Linked DNA regions of Homo sapiens: all the other regions are linked to region 1. The links come from fine-mapping of genetic effects on gene expression. A gene starts in region 1. Each other region holds a variant in brackets. All regions are shown on one strand. Distances are between the middles of the regions. Region 1 holds the start of ELP1 (elongator acetyltransferase complex subunit 1). Region 2 overlaps ELP1 (elongator acetyltransferase complex subunit 1). Region 3 overlaps CTNNAL1 (catenin alpha like 1).

Evidence for each region. PIP is the estimated chance that this variant, and not a neighbour inherited with it, causes the effect.
Region 2: its variant is the best candidate, but not a certain one, in a credible set for the expression of ELP1 in whole blood (INTERVAL, PIP 0.82).
Region 3: its variant is the best candidate, but not a certain one, in a credible set for the expression of ELP1 in sun-exposed skin (GTEx, PIP 0.87).

Annotation. Positions count from the first base shown.
Region 1 is chr9:108,931,401-108,937,868 of GRCh38, reverse strand. It overlaps ELP1 (elongator acetyltransferase complex subunit 1), which reads left to right and starts at 3,745. Exons shown (of 37, transcript NM_003640.5): 1 at 3,745-4,005. It overlaps ABITRAM (actin binding transcription modulator), which reads right to left and starts at 3,469. Exons shown (of 6, transcript NM_017832.4): 1 at 3,304-3,469; 2 at 2,180-2,231; 3 at 1,432-1,561. The coding sequence starts at 3,382. RefSeq lists a silencer at 3,243-3,522 and an enhancer at 4,273-4,502.
Region 2 is chr9:108,905,874-108,910,873 of GRCh38, reverse strand. ELP1 (elongator acetyltransferase complex subunit 1) reads left to right here. Exons shown (of 37, transcript NM_003640.5): 13 at 2,470-2,569; 14 at 4,389-4,571. Among named protein-coding and RNA genes, the nearest start is that of ELP1, 26 kb to the left of the region's middle. The variant T/G (reference allele first, on the strand shown) is at 2,731.
Region 3 is chr9:108,957,485-108,963,952 of GRCh38, reverse strand. The region is part of intron 11 of CTNNAL1 (catenin alpha like 1); the gene reads left to right. Among named protein-coding and RNA genes, the nearest start is that of ABITRAM, 26 kb to the right of the region's middle. The variant AGTAT/T (reference allele first, on the strand shown) is at 2,878.

The sequences.
Region 1 (6,468 bases):
ATGCCACCATGCCCAGCTAATTAAAAAAAAATTTTTTTTTTTTGGTAGAAATGAGGTCTTGTTATGTTGCCTAGGTTTGTCACAAATTCCTGGCCTCAAGTGATCTTCCCGCCTCGGCTTCCCAAAGTGCTGGGATTACAGGCATGAGCAACTGTACCTGCCTTAAGTGTTACTATTTTGGACAGAGATTTATCATTGAAACTTCAGAAGTCTTAAGTGTTATTGTAACTTGTAGACTATCGTTTAAGAGAGGTGCATGCTTTTCTAAGTCCACTAGTTTCTTGAGTGAGGAAAAATCAGTAATTGTAAAGCACAATAAATCAGTAATTATTAGGGGACTTCAGGCCTACAAAGGGGGGTTTGAATAAGGGTCTCCTAGAATAGTGAGAGCAATTAGCAGAAACTCTTAGTATGAACTCAGTAAATGAACGACTTAAATCATCCACAGAAACTTTCCCAACCAGTGGGTTTGTTAAGACATTTTAACATGTCACTAAATTCTCCTTGGCATGATACTCTTTTAATAATCTGTCCATTTTGCCTAGAGTTACAGAGGGTAGAGATAGCATTCTATATAACCGAGTGTTGTGTGCAGGTACAGGGGGTGGGTACATGAGTATTACATTGACAATGCTTTAGGAATGGAAAAACAGTAAGGAGCAAATATATTTTCTCGTATTCATGTTTTTGTTTTTGTTTTTTTGAGACGGAGTCTTGGTCTTGCTCTGCCGCTCAGGCTGGAGTGCAGTGGTGCGATCTCAGCTCACTGCAACCTCCGCCTCCCAGGTTCAAGCCATTCTCCTGCCTCAGCCTCCCGAGTGGCTGGGATTACAGGTGCCCACTACTGTGCCTGGCTAATTTTTGTATTTTTATAGAGATGGGTTTTCACCCCGTTGGCCAGGCTAGTCTCAAACTCCTGACCTCATGATCCACCCACCTTGGTCTCCCAAAATGCTGAGATTATAGGCGTGAGCCATTGTGACCGGCCCATGTTTTTCTTTTTTTTTTTCTAACTCCCTTGGGAATTTTTTTTCTGTTTAATTTACATGTGGAAATATATGGTAAAGAAGAGTTAGTCACCTAAATTTTACAGAACTCGACATACTAGTTTAATACAACTAGAAGGGACAAAATATCTTGTTATATTGCTATTAGAGTTCTCCTTTCAAAGGCCTGCCTTCCCCCTCCTCCATCCTGGGCATTATAGGGATAGTAGCACAGAACCTAATATAACAGATACTACACCTCCTGAGATACCTAATTTGGGGGAGCTGAGAATTTCTTTAGGTGAAAGTATACCTAAAATTAGCACCTCAAACTGCTAGAGAAGTATGCTAAGCATATGCTACTGGATTCTAAGGTTCATTGGATCTGTCATTACCATGAATATAGAGGATGTAAGTAGATAATCACAGAATTACAGGAACATACCCGCTTAAATTTCCCAGAGACCTTGTTCTGAAGTCTGCTACAGTTGGTACTGATCTGATAGGAAATGCTTTTAATTGTTTTTCCACTTTGAAGAACTGGATGAGATTCTGCCAATGTGATGACACATATTCTACAAGGAGAAAAAGTTGATCCTGTGTGATTGCTTGGAATAATTTTTCCTCCCATAACTCCTATTGGAACAAGAATGTATGAACTGGTATTTGTTTAGTCAAACTATCATCTTCCCCCTTTTTCCTTTGGCTACTATTGGGGCATAACTGTAGAATAGAGAATACAATAATAAAAGAGAAAACAAGATTGAATTTCTTTCCCAGGAAAGGGAAGAGTACCAGAGGTCTTTAGGTAGGTAGCACTGGGGTAGAAGACAAAGAAATAAGGCATGCCTGTGTATACGAGATACCATACATGTCTCTACCGTAGCCCTTTCTGTGGGCTCTGAACAGTTCAGTAGTTGGGCACAGACTGGCCACTTCAAGTAGCAGCTGATGATGTGGTCCTCCATTTGGATGTTTGAGTAATCAAATTTATATGTTCAGAGTGGCCAGGCACTGGAATACTCATTCTTGCCAAACAAACTCCTATAATAATACCATTTCAACACAGTAGAAGATAATTAATGCATGTTTGTTTAGTGAACATTTGTTCAATCCAAGACCACAAGACCATACCAGGCTACAATACCAGGAAAAAAAAATTTTTGATAATTTAAAATTCCCAATTTGCTTACCGGTTAGAGTGCTGTAGTATACAGTGGTCCTCACAAAATTTTCCTTTGACATCTAGAAGAATACATGAGTCTGTTGGTGGCTGAAATCAATATTTACTACCACTATGTGGTACTTTCTTTGGGTCATATAGTTGATAATGAAGACTGGACACATACATGCTGCATGCTGATCACGGGTATCCCTTCATTACTCAAAAAGACATACCTAAAGGTTTCCTAGAAAGTATTTAAAGAGATCTGGCCCAGATAGAATAATTTATTCAACATTAAGGTAATTAACTCCTTGCTCCATCTTACTTTACACTCACTTCAAAATGAGTACACGTAGTATTTTTGCTAGGAAAATGCAATTAGCATCCCGTTCTTTATGATATATATTTTTTGTTGGTGGTTTCCAGGACTGTCCTGATGTTGGTGCAAGTCCGACATTCTGGGAAACCCCTCAGTCATGGGTGAACTAGGACAGGTTGGTCACCCTATGTTTGGCCAACAGAAAATATGCTACAATATATATTTTTTAAACTGAGTATAACCATTATCACTGAATGAAAGGAAGAAAGGAGAGTCCCCAACGATGCTCCCACCACTGGTTCTGCTTACACAAAACAGTACAAAAAGAATACCTACTTCTAAGTGGCAGATGGCGTCTCTTAAGGTAAATGTATAGATTCTTCTTCTTTCTAAATGTCTCTAATCTAACCCACCCTCTTCTCGCCATCCCTACTGCCTCTACCTTAGTTTCGATCTGATCATTTAAATAATTTTATGTATCGCTACTCCCTGTGAGAGTGAGCCCCTCAATCCCTCCAGGCACTTAAGGACTGTTGCAACCTAGCCCTCCGCCTACCTTTGGGGCCTCCGTTTAGAGTACTCATCTTACTGCGAGCAACACCCTAGAGCTCGCACTGCAATCGCCGGCCCCAGAATGCGCCCTGAAGTATTTCAGGCCACCAGGTCTTTGCAAATGCCATTCCCTGGGGCTAGACGGAACACAGAAGTCCAGTGCCTTCTGACGTGGGGACGGAGAGCCAGGGAGAGCGCGCGTGGCTTATGATCTGTCAACATAGTCTACACAGCATTAGGCCAGTGCGGCCAAGGAGGGATCAACATCACTCCGCACTTACCCGGTTTGTACCAGCGAGTGAAGTATCGATCCACGAGCGAAGGCACCACCGGCTCCGCGGCTTCGGGCTCGGTAGCCATGGCGACCTCCGGCGCCGCCACCCCCGCCCTCCGGGACCCCAGCGCTTCCTCCGCGCAGCCCGGACTGGGCGTGCTCTTCCGGCGCACAGCGCGTGTCGTGCGCACGCGCGCTGCTCTCAGGTCCGCAGGTTCCACCCCCCCCCCCGCCCCCCCCAATTACAGTGCTTTGGGGTTCGACATCAAAACAGAGATCAAATACAAAAGTTTGGGCAGATGGGCAAGAGGGCAGAGGGACAGGGGACGCGGCCAATGTAGCTCCTCTACCTCTACGGTGCCAGGCCTACAAAGAAGGCCGGCCGCCGTAAGTGACCAGAAGCGGGCCCGGCCTCGCCCCCTCCGCCTGGTGACGTCACTCCCGCGCCGCACTCCCAGTGCTGCGGCTGCCTAGTTGACGCACCCATTGAGTCGCTGGCTTCTTTGCAGCGCTTCAGCGTTTTCCCCTGGAGGGCGCCTCCATCCTTGGAGGCCTAGTGCCGTCGGAGAGAGAGCGGGAGCCGCGGACAGAGACGCGTGCGCAATTCGGAGCCGACTCTGGGTGCGGACTGTGGGAGCTGACTCTGGGTAGCCGGCTGCGCGTGGCTGGGGAGGCGAGGCCGGACGCACCTCTGTTTGGGGGTCCTCAGGTAAGCGATCCATCCAGGGTAGGGGCACGGGAGTGGACCTCTCCGCCGGCGGTGTCCGGGTGAAGGAGACCCGGAGCCTCCTCTGCCTGCTGCGGGCCGGGGACTGGAGTGCGGGCTGCACCACCTCTTTCCTAGAGCCTTAAATTCTTTTTGCAGCCTTGCCACCTGCTCCATCGGGGGCGCTGGGAGGCGCGACAGCCCAGGGATGCCTGCTGCCCCTCCAGCCGGACTTAACCCAGCCTCTTGATTGCTTGCAGGGGGTTGATAATAACGCTGAAAGCGAGAGTATTAATTCACGATGGAAGGCGGCGGTTAATAGAGGCTCGGGTGCTGTGGTGCGGGTCCTTTCTCGCGTGTGAGACTTTTTCGTGGAGGTGGTGTCCTCTGTGCTTCTCCATCTAACGTGGTGTTTTACGTGGCTTTCTCTCCCGTTAACGATGATCTCCGTGGAGACAGTGGCTGAGTAATCTTCAGATCCCAGTACTTAGCAAGTGCTCAGTCGGTGTTGGATGTAGGCCACAAACCGGATCGTAAAGAATTCAACTGTATATTGACAGCCACGGAACTAATCAATGAATAGATCCGTATGAAGAGTAAGCAAAAAGGCAGCAAAGACAGTTTTTCAGCTTGGGGACATAGAGTAGAAATGGTCTGTCCCCAAATAGTGGGAACTGTCATTTGGGGGAAGAATAGCAAGTTCTTTGCTTTCCAGGTCGCATTTGATGTGCATGTGAGACATGCTTGTGATTCTATCAGGAGGTTGAAAATGTGGGTTTAGTGGTAAGTTTGGGCTAATTCAGTCAGGGCTAGGCATTTAGGCCTAATCAGCGTATTGGTGATCTACCTGGTATATGTAATCATGCATGTGATGTCTAGCCAAGAGGTGGATAGTCGAAGGAGCAAGGGAAGAAAATGAAGCAGTTATCAGGAAATTAAGAGAGAATCCACGATTGACCTTTGGTGTGGAGGGATCTTTAGCACATTTAAGAACTGCGAAGAGTTTGAATCAGTGGAGGCAGGAAGGTTGGAGGTTGCAGATGTCCAAGAAAGAGTACTAATAGGCCTAGGTCCTGTGGCAATATGGAGGATATTCCTTTCCTAGCCTGGAAAGAAGTGGAGGGAAGTCTTCCTCCGAGAAGATAAGGGAATAAGGCTGATGGGTGTGAAATTTCAGAGAAACTAGTTTTGAGGCGTTTTTATGATGTTTAAAGATGAAAAACGCAGCCAGGCACGGTGGCTCAGGCCTGTAATCCCAGCACTTTGGGAGGCAGAGGCGGGTGGATCACTTGAGGTTAGGAGTTCAAGAACAGCCTGGCCAACATGGTGAAACCCTGTCTCTACTAAAAATACAAAAATTAACTGGGCATGGTGCCGGGCGCCTGTAATCCCAGCTACTCCGGAGGCTGAGGCAGGAGAATCGCTTGAACCCGGGAGGCAGATGTTGCGGTGAGCCGAGATCGCGCCATTGCACCCCAGCCTGGGCAATAAGAGCGAAACTCCGTCTCAAAAAACAAAAAAACCTGCATGATATGTTAGAGGTTCAAGTAATTTCTAGCAGTTCTTGAATATAATTGTCACCAAAACTTACTAAAATCATTGTCTTCCTCACTTCCATCATATATAAACTTACCTTTCTCTTATCCCACATTATATATTATATAATTCCTATGACACTTGACATTATCTTCTGTGTACTATTAGGATTGATTCATCTTTATTCTTTCTATGTCATACATATGTGGGGTGCCAAGATGAGAGAAGTCTCCTTGGATTAAAGTGACAATAAGACCGGTGTGGTCCTTGTAATTGCTACCCCTAACATAAGTTAGGGACTTACAATCATAAGCCTTAAAGGGATCTGAATATAAATAACTAGCACAGTAACATTTTTTTCCCCTACTTAGGTAATGTTATGCATTTAAGCAAGCCTGATTTTGCCAGACCAAAGTAGATGTCTTGTTTAGCACTCTTTTCTCACGTTTTATATTGTCCTGGGAAAAGCCTGGCCAGAAGAACAAAGTTACTGGAAGTAGTTATGTCAGGTCATCAGGGTCCTTGAAATGTTGGTCATCATTTTGAAGTAAATTGTTGTCATGTCCCAGTATTTTCTCTTCCCCTTTAGAACAGTAAATGCTTTTCTATCTTTGATTTCAGTTTTTTTATGAATGTATAAAACCAGTTTATAAATGAATAGACCTGGTGAATATTAAAGTCATTTCAGATTCTCTTCAACTGCCAGTATATAAAAATGGATTTTCAAATAGTGCTAATCAGTGGGATACCCTTTTGTTTTTCCTCATGATTTTATAAAGATGTCCTAATATGCAAAAATAAAATGTTTCCCCATTCATTTGTTCTTTCAACTTTCCCAAAGGAATAACTGATATTACATCTTTTTTGAAGAAAACATTCTAAAGTTGAGAATCTTGCCTCTCCTAAAAAGAACATAAAATAGGTTTCAGA
Region 2 (5,000 bases), 26 kb after region 1:
TTATGATATTTAATTGCCTTGGGTTTTTGTTTTTTTTTTTTTTAATCCTATACTGGTTTGTACGAGCCATTCCTTTTCCCTTACTGACTTGAAGAGTCAGTTATTTAAGAATAACATTGGACTCTGGAAATAACATAGTATGTTATACATTGTTAACATGTTTTACTCTTTTCATAGCCTTTACACATATTTTCAGTTGATCTCATCCCTCCTAGGAGCTGTGTCAGAGATGGGGTTTTCCTCTTTTGTAGATGAGGGAACACAGTGTCAGAGGTTTTGTAATTTGTTTGAACAAGAATGGACAAGGACCTCAACACAGGTGTTCTAGCTCCTAATCCACTTGTCCTGCCACAGCCCCATTGCTGTCAGTTCTTCATTACTTTCCTGATGTGCTGGAGAATCTGAAATTTGTTTTTACTTGTGAGTTCTGTGGTTATGTCATAAATTCTGCTGGCATATGGCAGTGTTAGCCTTGTTTTCAAATATCTTTTGAATTCTCAGAAAAAGCCTAGATAGTTGCCAAGAGAGAATAATCAAAATTAATTAATTTAAATGGGAAGTCCTTACTTTCATATCAGCTTTTCTGTTAAGTCAGCAGCCCACTGTGTACATGGATCCTATCTGGATGTATCACCAGTTTCTCTGATTATAGTTTCAGTGTGTAAAATGCTGTTACAGTCCTCCTTAAACTTTTCAAAATAGCTTTAAAAAAAAGTGCAAATATGTTCATTGTCAAGGCAAAAAGAATCAGATGTAAGCTTTTGTGGGACTTAACTGTATGATGCTAATGAGTTTATATGTCACTTTATGATGTATGGTATGTTTTGTTCTGCATTCACTTAAAAAATAGCTTTATATCATTCATCTATTTAAAGTGTACAATTCAATGGTTTATATGTGTGTGTATGAATATATATACATATGTATATGTATATATATGTATATTCACAGAGTTGTACAGCCATCACCACGATCAATTTTAGGACGTTTTTATCTCCTCAGAATGAAACCCTGTACCACCCTGCATTCATTTTACTTGAGAGAAAACTCCCTGTGATGAGATAGGACAGGTTGAGAGCTCCACTTTTGAAAGATTGTTCGGCATCAATATGTGGGGTTGGCCATAGGTCAGGGGCACCTGGAGGCAGAGATTCTAGTTAGGAGAAGCTGTTGTCAAGTGTCCAGGCAGGAGCTAGCAAGAGCTTGAGCCAGAGCAGTGTTCATAGAAATGGAAAGAAGAGAAAGATCATAACAAATCCATGAAGTAAAAACCCTGAGAAGTTAAAGAACCCACTGGGGAGAGTTTGGATATAAGAGAATCTGGAAAAAGAGATCTTGGACTGGAACAGGTCAGGGCTCCGTGCCCAAGTGGAAGGGAAATTAAGAACTTGGAGTCAAGTGGTAGACATTTGAGTGGTGTGGAGACAAGTTCGTTGCCAAAGTTTTCAAAGATGGTGTTTGATGCATCCTGAGTATCACTCCTTTTTCCCCCTCATTGCTTCTTGATTGTTTATTATATGCCAGGCTTTTTTCTAGTACTTGGCTTGTTGTACTAGAAAACTAGTTGTACTTTGTCTACAACTTGTTGTTCTAGGTGTAGACAAAAGATATCAATTAAATATGATCTATCAGATGGCAAGTGCTGTGGAGAAAAATTAAGCAAAATAAGGGGTAGGGAGAGCTTAAGGATAAGGGTTTACAGGGGGAAGGTGTCTTTCCTATTTAGTGTGATCCCAAAGGCCTCTCTGTGAAGGTGACATTGAAGCAGAGACCTGGTGAGAATCACAGTGGGAGCCACGCAGACATCTGGGGTAAGAGCGTCCCAAGCATTCTATGCTTGAAGGCAAAGAAGAAAAAAGAAAGAGCGTTCCAAGCAGAGTAAAAAGCAACCACCGAAGTGCCTGTTGTGTTTAGGAAATAGCCAGGAGGCCAGGGTGGCTGCAGCAGAGCAAAGGAGGGGAAGGTGGTGGGTGAGTTCAGAGTGGTGATGGGAATCTGCTCTTGTAGGGCCTTGCGGCTTTTACTCCGAGTGAGATAGGAGCCACCAGAGGGCTTAGAACAGAGGAGTGCAGTGTTCTGGCTGAATTTTTTAAAGGCTTGCATTGGCTGCTGTGCAGTGAATAAACTGGATGAAGAATAGAAAGAAAATGTCTTTTAAGCAGGTGCTTAGGACTTTGGAGAATTTGAGGATATTGAGAGGTGGTTGAAGACAGTGGAGGAAATTGTCCACAGCACTGGGCTGAGAGGGTAGCCCCTTCACCTGGTCTTGCTGAGATGTGGCCTTTGTCAGGGAAGATTATGACTGATGTGTTCTTAAGAGGAAAGCAGAAATTTTAAGGAGGTTGAGATGTGATTATTTTCTAGATTGCTGTTTGCCTTCTAGAACTCATTAATTGCAGACACCATCCCCTTAGTATTAGGTGAAATCTTATAATTTACGATGATAATATTTGCATTTTTGTTTTCCAGGTGATTGTCCAAGTGCTGACCCTACAGTGAAACTGGGAGCTGTGGGTGGAAGTGGATTTAAAGTTTGCCTTAGAACTCCTCATTTGGAAAAGAGATACAAGTAGGTTCTTAATTATCTTGGGCTTCTGGGAACAGAATCAGCCAGCATGCAGTCCTAAATTCAGCCATCTGATAACAGTTCTATGCCTGTTGCTGAGTGGAACAAGAAATAAAGACAACACCCAGGCCCTGACTTTCGGATCTGATTGGAGAAGCCAGTCA[T/G]GTAGTTTGTCTGAATGCCATATAATTTGATAGGTAGCAGGAGAGCATGAGTTGTAAGCCAGCCTAGGACCTACTCCCAATAGCGCTTGGTTCTCCAGGAAAAATCATGTGGGAAAGATGGAGATGACAATGATAAGGCGGAGCTGCATTCTCTTACATAAATGGGGATGTATGGGTTGTTAACATGGATGACCTAATGCAGCCTCTGTCTTTGCTCCATCCCAGAATCTAGAACTTCTGGGTGCTGTGCTTTGAGGCTCCTGGGATGGAAATCAGAATGCATTCTTCCATTGAAACAGTATTGTAAACAATTGGATGTTATTGAATACCTCAGGTACACTATAGGCATTTGCAAAATGACCTAGAAACCAAATTATAATGCCACATCTGTGAGAGAACTTTTTTAAAAAGTACCACTTATTGAGTACTTACAGATTAAAAAAACAAAGTGTAGAGGTTAGGTAACTTACCCAAGGTCATGGACCTGGTAACTAGAGAATTTAGGGTTTGATTCTATTCTGTTTGATAAGTCCATGTTCTTCATTACTAAACTACTCTGCCTCCAGGGAACATTTATTGTTAGATTAATAGAAATAATTAACTGAGTACAACAAATAGCAGAATTTAATAAATAATGTTTCTTAAATATATGTGATATATTTAATAAATACAGCAGAAGTGTTCAACCTCTGTATGATTTTGAGGCTGCCTGTATAATGCTTAGTAGTTTTTAAAGAGCATTTACATGCATTATTTCACTTCATAGACTTGAAACCACTAGAGTAGAGATAGAGGACAAATTAGAAAGTATGAGGCAGTTTAGAATATAGTTTCATTTAAAAAAAATTGATGGGGATAATGCCAATTCGTCTGAGATTTCACAGAAGACATGAGTACTCATCGTGATCTTGGGGAAGGGATAGGTTTGGGGTTGGCAAAGAATTGGGAACATTGGGTCTGGTGGGGAAGAAAGTGTCAGTGAAAACCAGAGGTGGGACTGATCCTCCATGGGATACTCTATGTGAATGCAATGGAGAGCCTGAGTCCGGGGAGAGATGTTTGAGGAGGAAGATCAGGCTAGTGACCAACTTCTTCAGTGGGAGCTGCGGATTTGCCACCTGATCTAAAAGGCAGGAAGTAGCCATTGTCGGTTCCTACGTGAGGTGACAAGAACAGTGCGCTGGTCAGGTGTATAAATGCTACCAAAGAATGCATTAGAGACATGGAGACCATCTCTCAAGCTAGTCAGTCAGTTTAATGTGAGGTGCTTAGGAAAGGACCCATTCTACTGCAAGTGACATACCTGCCAGAGCCTGGTTTGAATGCTGGTAAGTCATGGCAGTGGAAAAGCTCTGGGGTTCATTAGTGTAGGGACTAGGGCTGGTAATTTTCTTGTGTAGTCAGTTTCCTCAAGTGTTCTCTTCAAATTTAAAGATTTCAGGGTATGAGAAATTTAGGGAAAATATAAAAACGTATTCTTAAGCCAGACAAAGATTAATTTTAGATTTTGTAGTATTTGGTAGTATCTCAGGTTTTGTCCCTCCAAATAATTAGGAGTGGACTGTATACAAGATGCTTCAGTCTTCCTTCATCCAGGAACGTCTCAGTGGTTTTTAAGTTTTATTCATGTCTTGGATATTCTTCAATATTTACAATAGAATCCAGTTTGAGAATAATGAAGATCAAGATGTAAACCCGCTGAAACTAGGCCTTCTCACTTGGATTGAAGAAGACGTCTTCCTGGCTGTAAGCCACAGTGAGTTCAGCCCCCGGTCTGTCATTCACCATTTGACTGCAGCTTCTTCTGAGATGGATGAAGAGCATGGACAGCTCAATGTCAGGTATTGCAGTTTTTCCCTGTACTCCACATGTTAAGCAAATGGAGTTAGGTTTTTGTCTTTTATGAGCATACAACTTTTGACTTCTATTGATCAAGGTTGAGGAGCAGTAGCTTTCTTGTTAGACACACTTAACAAGAAGGTTAAGTCTAGTTATGAGCCATGTCAAAATAACAGACCAAAAATATATCAAAAAGTGGTGAAAAATAGGATAAATATTAGTAGATGAAGCAACTTTTTAAAGATATGTTAAATATTTTAATTTAGCATCTACCCACATTTTTCCAGCGTGATTGTTATATGTTATAATTGATTTTAATAACTGTCAAGCATAATTAGAGTGGCTAATTCTCATGGGCTAATGTGATGGGAAGAAATTTTGTATAAATGCAGTCATGCGCATATATGTGTGTGTGTGTGTGTGTGTGTGTG
Region 3 (6,468 bases), 26 kb before region 1:
CTCAAACTGGTGTTAGGCAAGCTTTTCCCTGCTCCGGGCCCAAGTGTCCTTGACTCAATAATGAAAGTCTTAGGCTCAGTGATCTCAGTGACCTGTCAGCTCTAAAAGTCTTTTGTGAGCACTACCTGAAGTTAGTGTACTTTCGACTTCTGGGCATGAATATACCCTGCACTGTGTCTTTATCCTGGCTGGCTCTCTTTAAAGGCCAGAGGAATATTGTCTTCTGGCTTTATCAGTTGTCATCAGCCCATGACATCAGCCCAGTAGGGAGGCTGGAGGAGTGCCACAGGATGGCTATTTTTCTGGCATGTGACTGACTTTATGTACTTGTAAACGTGTTCCACGTGCACTGTGAGAAGCTTTACTAATAGCTGCAGCCATTCTGGAAAGAATATGGCATCAATCCTGGCCAGCTGATTCTCCTCTTTACCAGAACACCATTGAGCTTAGTACAGGTATCTCCTATAGTGTTTTCAGTGCTGAAGAGGTTTGTGTTTTCATTCTTGTAAACATGGGCTATGGCTGAGTTTTCATTACTTGTACTTCTTCCATGTCCCTAGGCCAGTGAGTTCATCATCATCTGAAATGGATATGGTTCTAGTTTTCTTGACCAAGGGCCTGAGCCCCCTTCCTCTTTGTGTTTGAGATGCTCGCAGTTTCTAAATCGGGCTGTTCTACCAGCATTTTGGTCTATTTTCTTCTCTCTTTTATTTCCATAAGAAGAGGAGTTATAACAGGCTTTTCCCCCCTCTCAAGAAAGATAGCAGTCATTTAACAGTTATTCTCTGCCTTAATCCCAGGCGATGTTCTGAGTAGCAATTACGGTAGCAATTAGAGGTTGATAAGCTTGGCAAGGGGGTTTTCTTTCTATAAATATAAGTAATTTTTTTCCTTAAAACAGAAAACAAACCCAAGTTGCATTTTCCATCAAGGGGTCTCTTCCTTCCTCTGAGATCTGAGTGCTAATCTCATGTTAGGGATAGAATTGGGTAGAAGTTGAAATACAGGTTCTGAAGTGGACTGCCTAGGTTCCAATCCTGCCTCTGCTATTTCCTAACTTAATCTCTCTATGCTTCAAGTTTTACATCTGCAAAATGGGGATAATGATGACAAAACTACCTAATATGGTAAGTGTGAAGATTAAATAAAATAAGTTAATTCACAGTAAATTCTCAACAAGTGTTACCTCTATCAGCATCAGCATCATGACCACTGTTACCTTGTGGTAAAACTAAATAGTTTATGAGAAAACATTAGGTCCAATTTCTCTTACTTAATCTCAATCTCTCCTACTTTCTGGCATCCATCTCTCCCTATGTCCTTTCTCCTACTCTAGGGAGGACTAGCCAGTCTGGCCCCACCGTAGAAAACCTCTAGATCTGCAGAAGCAAAGGTAAACTCCTTGCTTCTTTGTACAAATGAAGCTCATCCCTTCTCCAATGGTGAACTGACACCCTCTGAAAGATTCCTCTCACCGGACATCTAATGCAACATTAATTCAGTGTTCTCCTTTTCTGTCTCTGAGATTTGCCTTTCTTCTACCAAAGTTAGGCTCTTTAAAAAAAATAGCTAGGGAAGTTTAAGGAAAAGTAAAAGCCACAGGCTACTAGGGTCTTTGTGGGTAAAATTGTAAACATGATCCTTCAGAGGCCCGTGACTATTATAACCATAAAAATAATAGTAGCTGCCATCTCTTGAGAATGTACTGGGTTCCAGGTACTTTCATAAGTGCTGGATGTCCATTTTCTCATTTAATCCTCTCAGTAACCCTGGAGACAGGTATTATTTCCACATTTTATGAATGATGAAACTGAGGCTCGAAGTATCCCACAGTGAGTAAACTATAGGAGCTGGGACCCTTACTGAGGTTTGAATGATGCCAAAGATGAAATTTTATTAACTACCCATACTCTATTACTCAAGCAGTTAAACTCCACTCCAATCCTAAAGTTTTCTAATGAGAATGAACCAATTCTGTGAAAAATGCTCACAACTGCAGCTCTGAGTTCTGCTTTTTTCCCTCCCAAAGCTATTTCAGAAATGACTGAGAGATCCCAGGAAGTACAGGGCAAGGAACAAGTAATGACTGTATTCTTGTTTTGGTTGGTCCACTTATTGGCTGAGGATGGGGCCAGCTAAATTACAGAAGAGGTAAAACAATCTGTTAGTAATGGAATCCTGGGCACATTACCTGCCCTTTTGAGTTTGTTTCTTTATTTCAATGGATGTAAATGAAATAATGTGTAATACTGCTTGCACATCCTATGCCTGTTTTCAGACTATGTGAGCACTGTGGTTTCTTTTACTTTCAAGCTGGATATTATGTAAATAATCTCTTCTTTAGGTTCAGTTAACTTATGTTAAAAAAAATCAGCATTACCCAAACTTCCTAAGGACTGAACAGAAATTCCTTCTTACGTGGGAAACGCCTCAGCCTTCAGTCAATGAGACACTTATTGTTTCACTGGGAAAGTGCCTCTCTGTTCAGGAAGGGTTTATGTAGGTTTCACTGAGATGGAGTTGGTTGATTGTGTGTACTGCCTTTATTTGTCCTGATTTTTATCATGAACCTCATGAGCATAGCTTTTTCCTCAAAGAAGTCCATCTCTGGGTTAACCATTCTGACTGAACTGAATCCAGTGCCACAGTGTTGTTCTTCCTGTTATGCATGGTTGATGTGACAAACCTGCTCATTACCTTGCACCTGCCCACTGCTTTCCATACAAAGGTGTATTCTTCAGGTCCTGATTTCTCTTTGCTGCTGTTATGACTCCTGTTATGACTATTGTTGAAAAGCCTTTGCTGTATTCTAGCCACCTTAGTTCTGCTCTGCATAACTTGCCTCCTGTGATTGGCAAACTACCAGGCATACTTGTA[AGTAT/T]CATTCAACCATCCAACTAAGTGGTAAACATCACGCTAAGCAATAGGAGGGAGGCTTTAGTGTTCACATGCTAAAAGTTAGTCTGAGACCTAGGTCATTGTCCACCTTAACCCCAGACACTGAAATTTCACACTAGGACCTCCTGGGATTGTTTCAAGAAGGTAAAAATCAATACTTGTCTTCCTGTCTTCTGCTTTCATCCCATTCTGCCTTCTCACCCAAACCTCCAGGGAGGCTGTGGTCCTTGTATTAGAAGGGACCACACCTAAAAGACTCCACTTTTCCTTAGTGGTGAATATGTGTCAGTTTAGAATTTGAGATTATTTTGGATAATAAGTGTCAGAAAAAAGCCTTATCTCAGAGCTTGCGGTCTCTATCCTTCCTTTAAGGAAGCTGAATTCCCTTTGTTCTATTTCAATCATTTCAGAGTAAATATGACTACGCTTCAGTTTATAGAGATGCAGCTCTAACTAAACTATGTAGGGCAGTTATGATCACAATCGTGCCAAGAATCTTAATTTGGTTTTCAGTTCTGTAACTACTTTTCTCATTTTCCTGGCAGCCCTATTTCATAGCCCTGCATTTACATTATCGTTTGGCAGATTGGATGCCACTAAAAATGGGGGTACAGGAAGATAAACATGTTCGTGGGTAAAGATGAGTTTGTTTGGGGATGGTAGGAGCCTGCAACAAGGGAGTGATCTATCCAGAGAAGAGACGATGGTCTATACTAGGGTGATGATAGTCAAGATGAAGATAAGGGGACTAAGAAGAATTTAAAAACTAATATTGGTAGGGTTTATTGGTCAATTGAATATAGAGGTGAGGGAGAGGGAGGAGTTGGAGGATGATAGCTGGGTTTAGATTAGAATACCTCATTCCTGCTCCTGAGTTTAGCTGATAAGCTGCCTATGCTTTAGTGGTCAGGGATTCATTTTAAGTGGGTCTGGGGACATTAATTTTTTGATTGATCATACCATATAGAGTGCCTCCAGAACTAAAGATAGCTAATTATAAGAAATGTGAATCAGGGATAATTTAGCACATTTTCAGTGAAATGATAAGGCTTTTCCATTCTTGGGGAATTCGATTTATTTTGTAGATATACAGAAAGGCTCTATATATTGTAACTGAGAACATTTCTCAATTAGGTTTTCATAAGAAATAATTTTAGTGCTCCCTTAAGATGAGAGGGCCTTTAAACTTAATTGTGAACTTAATTTATCTGAAGGTATAAACTCAGAAGATGGCACAATTGTAGTGTTGACTAAACAGGATTTAGGGAGTATTAAACATACAATACCTCGTTGAGGACAGTGCTTTGAAGACAATTCTATATATCAGATCTGTACTAAGTATATTTTCTCCAAATAGTCCTGTTTTTCCAACTATTTTTAATGTTTATAATATGATAGAGTTTTGTTTATGCTACTTCTTTGATATAACAGCTAAACATAATTTAGCCAGTTTATTTTATTATTATTATTATATTTTGGAGACAGGGTCTCACTTTGTCACCCAGGCTGGTGTGCAGTGGTGTGATCATAGCTTACTGCAGCCTCAAACTCCTGGGTTCAAGGGATCCTCCCACATATCTAGAACTACAGGTGCTGGCCACCATGCCCAGATTTTTTAATTTTTTTCCCCCAGAGATGGGAGTCTCGCTGTGATACCCAGGCTGGTCTTTTTTTTTTTTTTTTTTTTTTTGATATGGAGTCTCGCTCTGTCACCCAGGCTGGAGTGCAGTGGCGTGATCTCAGCTCACTGCAAGCTCTGCCTCCCGGGTTCATGCCATTCTCCTGCCTCAGCCTCCCAAGTAACTGGGACTACAGGCGCCCACCACCACACCCGGCTAATTTTTTTTTTTTGTATTTTTAGTAGAGACAGGGTTTCACCGTGTTAGCCAGGATGGTCTCGATCTCCTGACCTCATAATCTGCCTGCCTCAGCCTCCCAAAGAGCTGGGATTACAGGCATGAGCCACCATGCCCAGCCTACTCAGGCTGGTCTTCAACTCCTGGCCTCAAGTAACCCTCCCGCATTGGCCTCCCAAAGTGCTGGGATTATGAACATGAGCCACCGTGCCTGGCTGAGCCAGTTTATTCTTTTTTTTTTTTTTTCTGCTTAGAATCAACGGCAATAATTAGATTCACATGGAAATAACATCTATAATTAGCCGAGCGTGGTGGTGTGCACCTGTAGTCCCAGCTACTCAGCTACTCAGGAGGCTGAGGCACGAGAATCGCTTGAACCCAGGAGGTGGAGGTTGCAGTGAGCCGAGATTGCACCACTGCACTTTAGCCTGGGTGACAGAGTGAGACTCTGTCTCAAAAAAAAAAGAAGTGGGAAATAACATCTATAAAAAAATTGGGAAATAACATCTATAATTAACTATAATTTAGATCTCTTGTTAGTATTAGATTGCTTTTTCTTGTGTTATTGTCAACTTGTTTGGTTTCTGTTGGAACTGGGGGAAAGAGGAAGAATCTTACCTGCATAGTATGTGGAGGAGGCCTATCTGAAAAAATGATCAATTTTGCAATTATCCTCAAATTCGTATAAATCATGCAGAGTCTAACTAAAGGATGGGAATAGGAAGCAAAACAAAGTATCTGTAAGAGGACCAGAGGGATTAGAACTATCAAGTGATAAATACTACTAGGTGGATGAAAATAGTAGCAAATCAGGTTACATAAAAGCTTTCTTTTCATTGGATTTATTTCTCAATGCATTTATTTATACATTCTACTTGCTTTAACTCTGTGGTATCTTAGAGATATAAGAGATACCGAAACAGTTGGTTTTGCCCCAACTTGTGGAGAGTAAATATGAACATTTTAGGGCCATGGGCACTATAGATGATTACTAAGTTAGATAATACAAGATTACTCCTGTAGCTGATGACATTTAAGTAATGATAGTGCCCTTTCAAAATTCAAAATTCTTTTTTCTTTATTATTTATTTATTTTTAGTACTTTCCCACTTTGTTTTTTTTTTTTTTTTTTTTTGAGACAGTCTTGCTCTATCACCCAGGCTGAAACAAAACAAAACAAAAAACAGAAAAAAGAACAGACTACAGGCATGCACCACTACGCCTGGCTAATTTTTGTATTTTTAGTAGAGATGGGGTGTCACCATTTTGGCCAGGCTGGTCTTGAATTCCTGACCTTGGGTGATCCACTTGCCTTAGCCTCCCAAAGTGCCAAGATTACAGGCATGAGCCACCATGCCCGGGTTCCTACTTCTGTTTAATGTGCCCTTTATAATATGCTAAGAGCACTTTTTAAAGGATATTATGGACAGGATTCAGACTTTGAATTAAGATAGATGGTGAATTTTGAAATTCTGAGTGACCGGAAGACTATCTTCTGTTAATATTGCAACTAAATCGAGCACTTTTCACATCAGAGCTTAGAGCCAAGGCATGAAAATAGCCTCTTCCTTTTTAAGTTTTTTCCCCTCACCATTCTGAAATCAGAAAGCCATTAATTAATAAAATTCCCTTACAATTTTGACATTACAAGGAAATGATTTGAATCATAAAGCTATTCCCAAGTACCATTAACTCACTCTTAGTAACAGTTCTT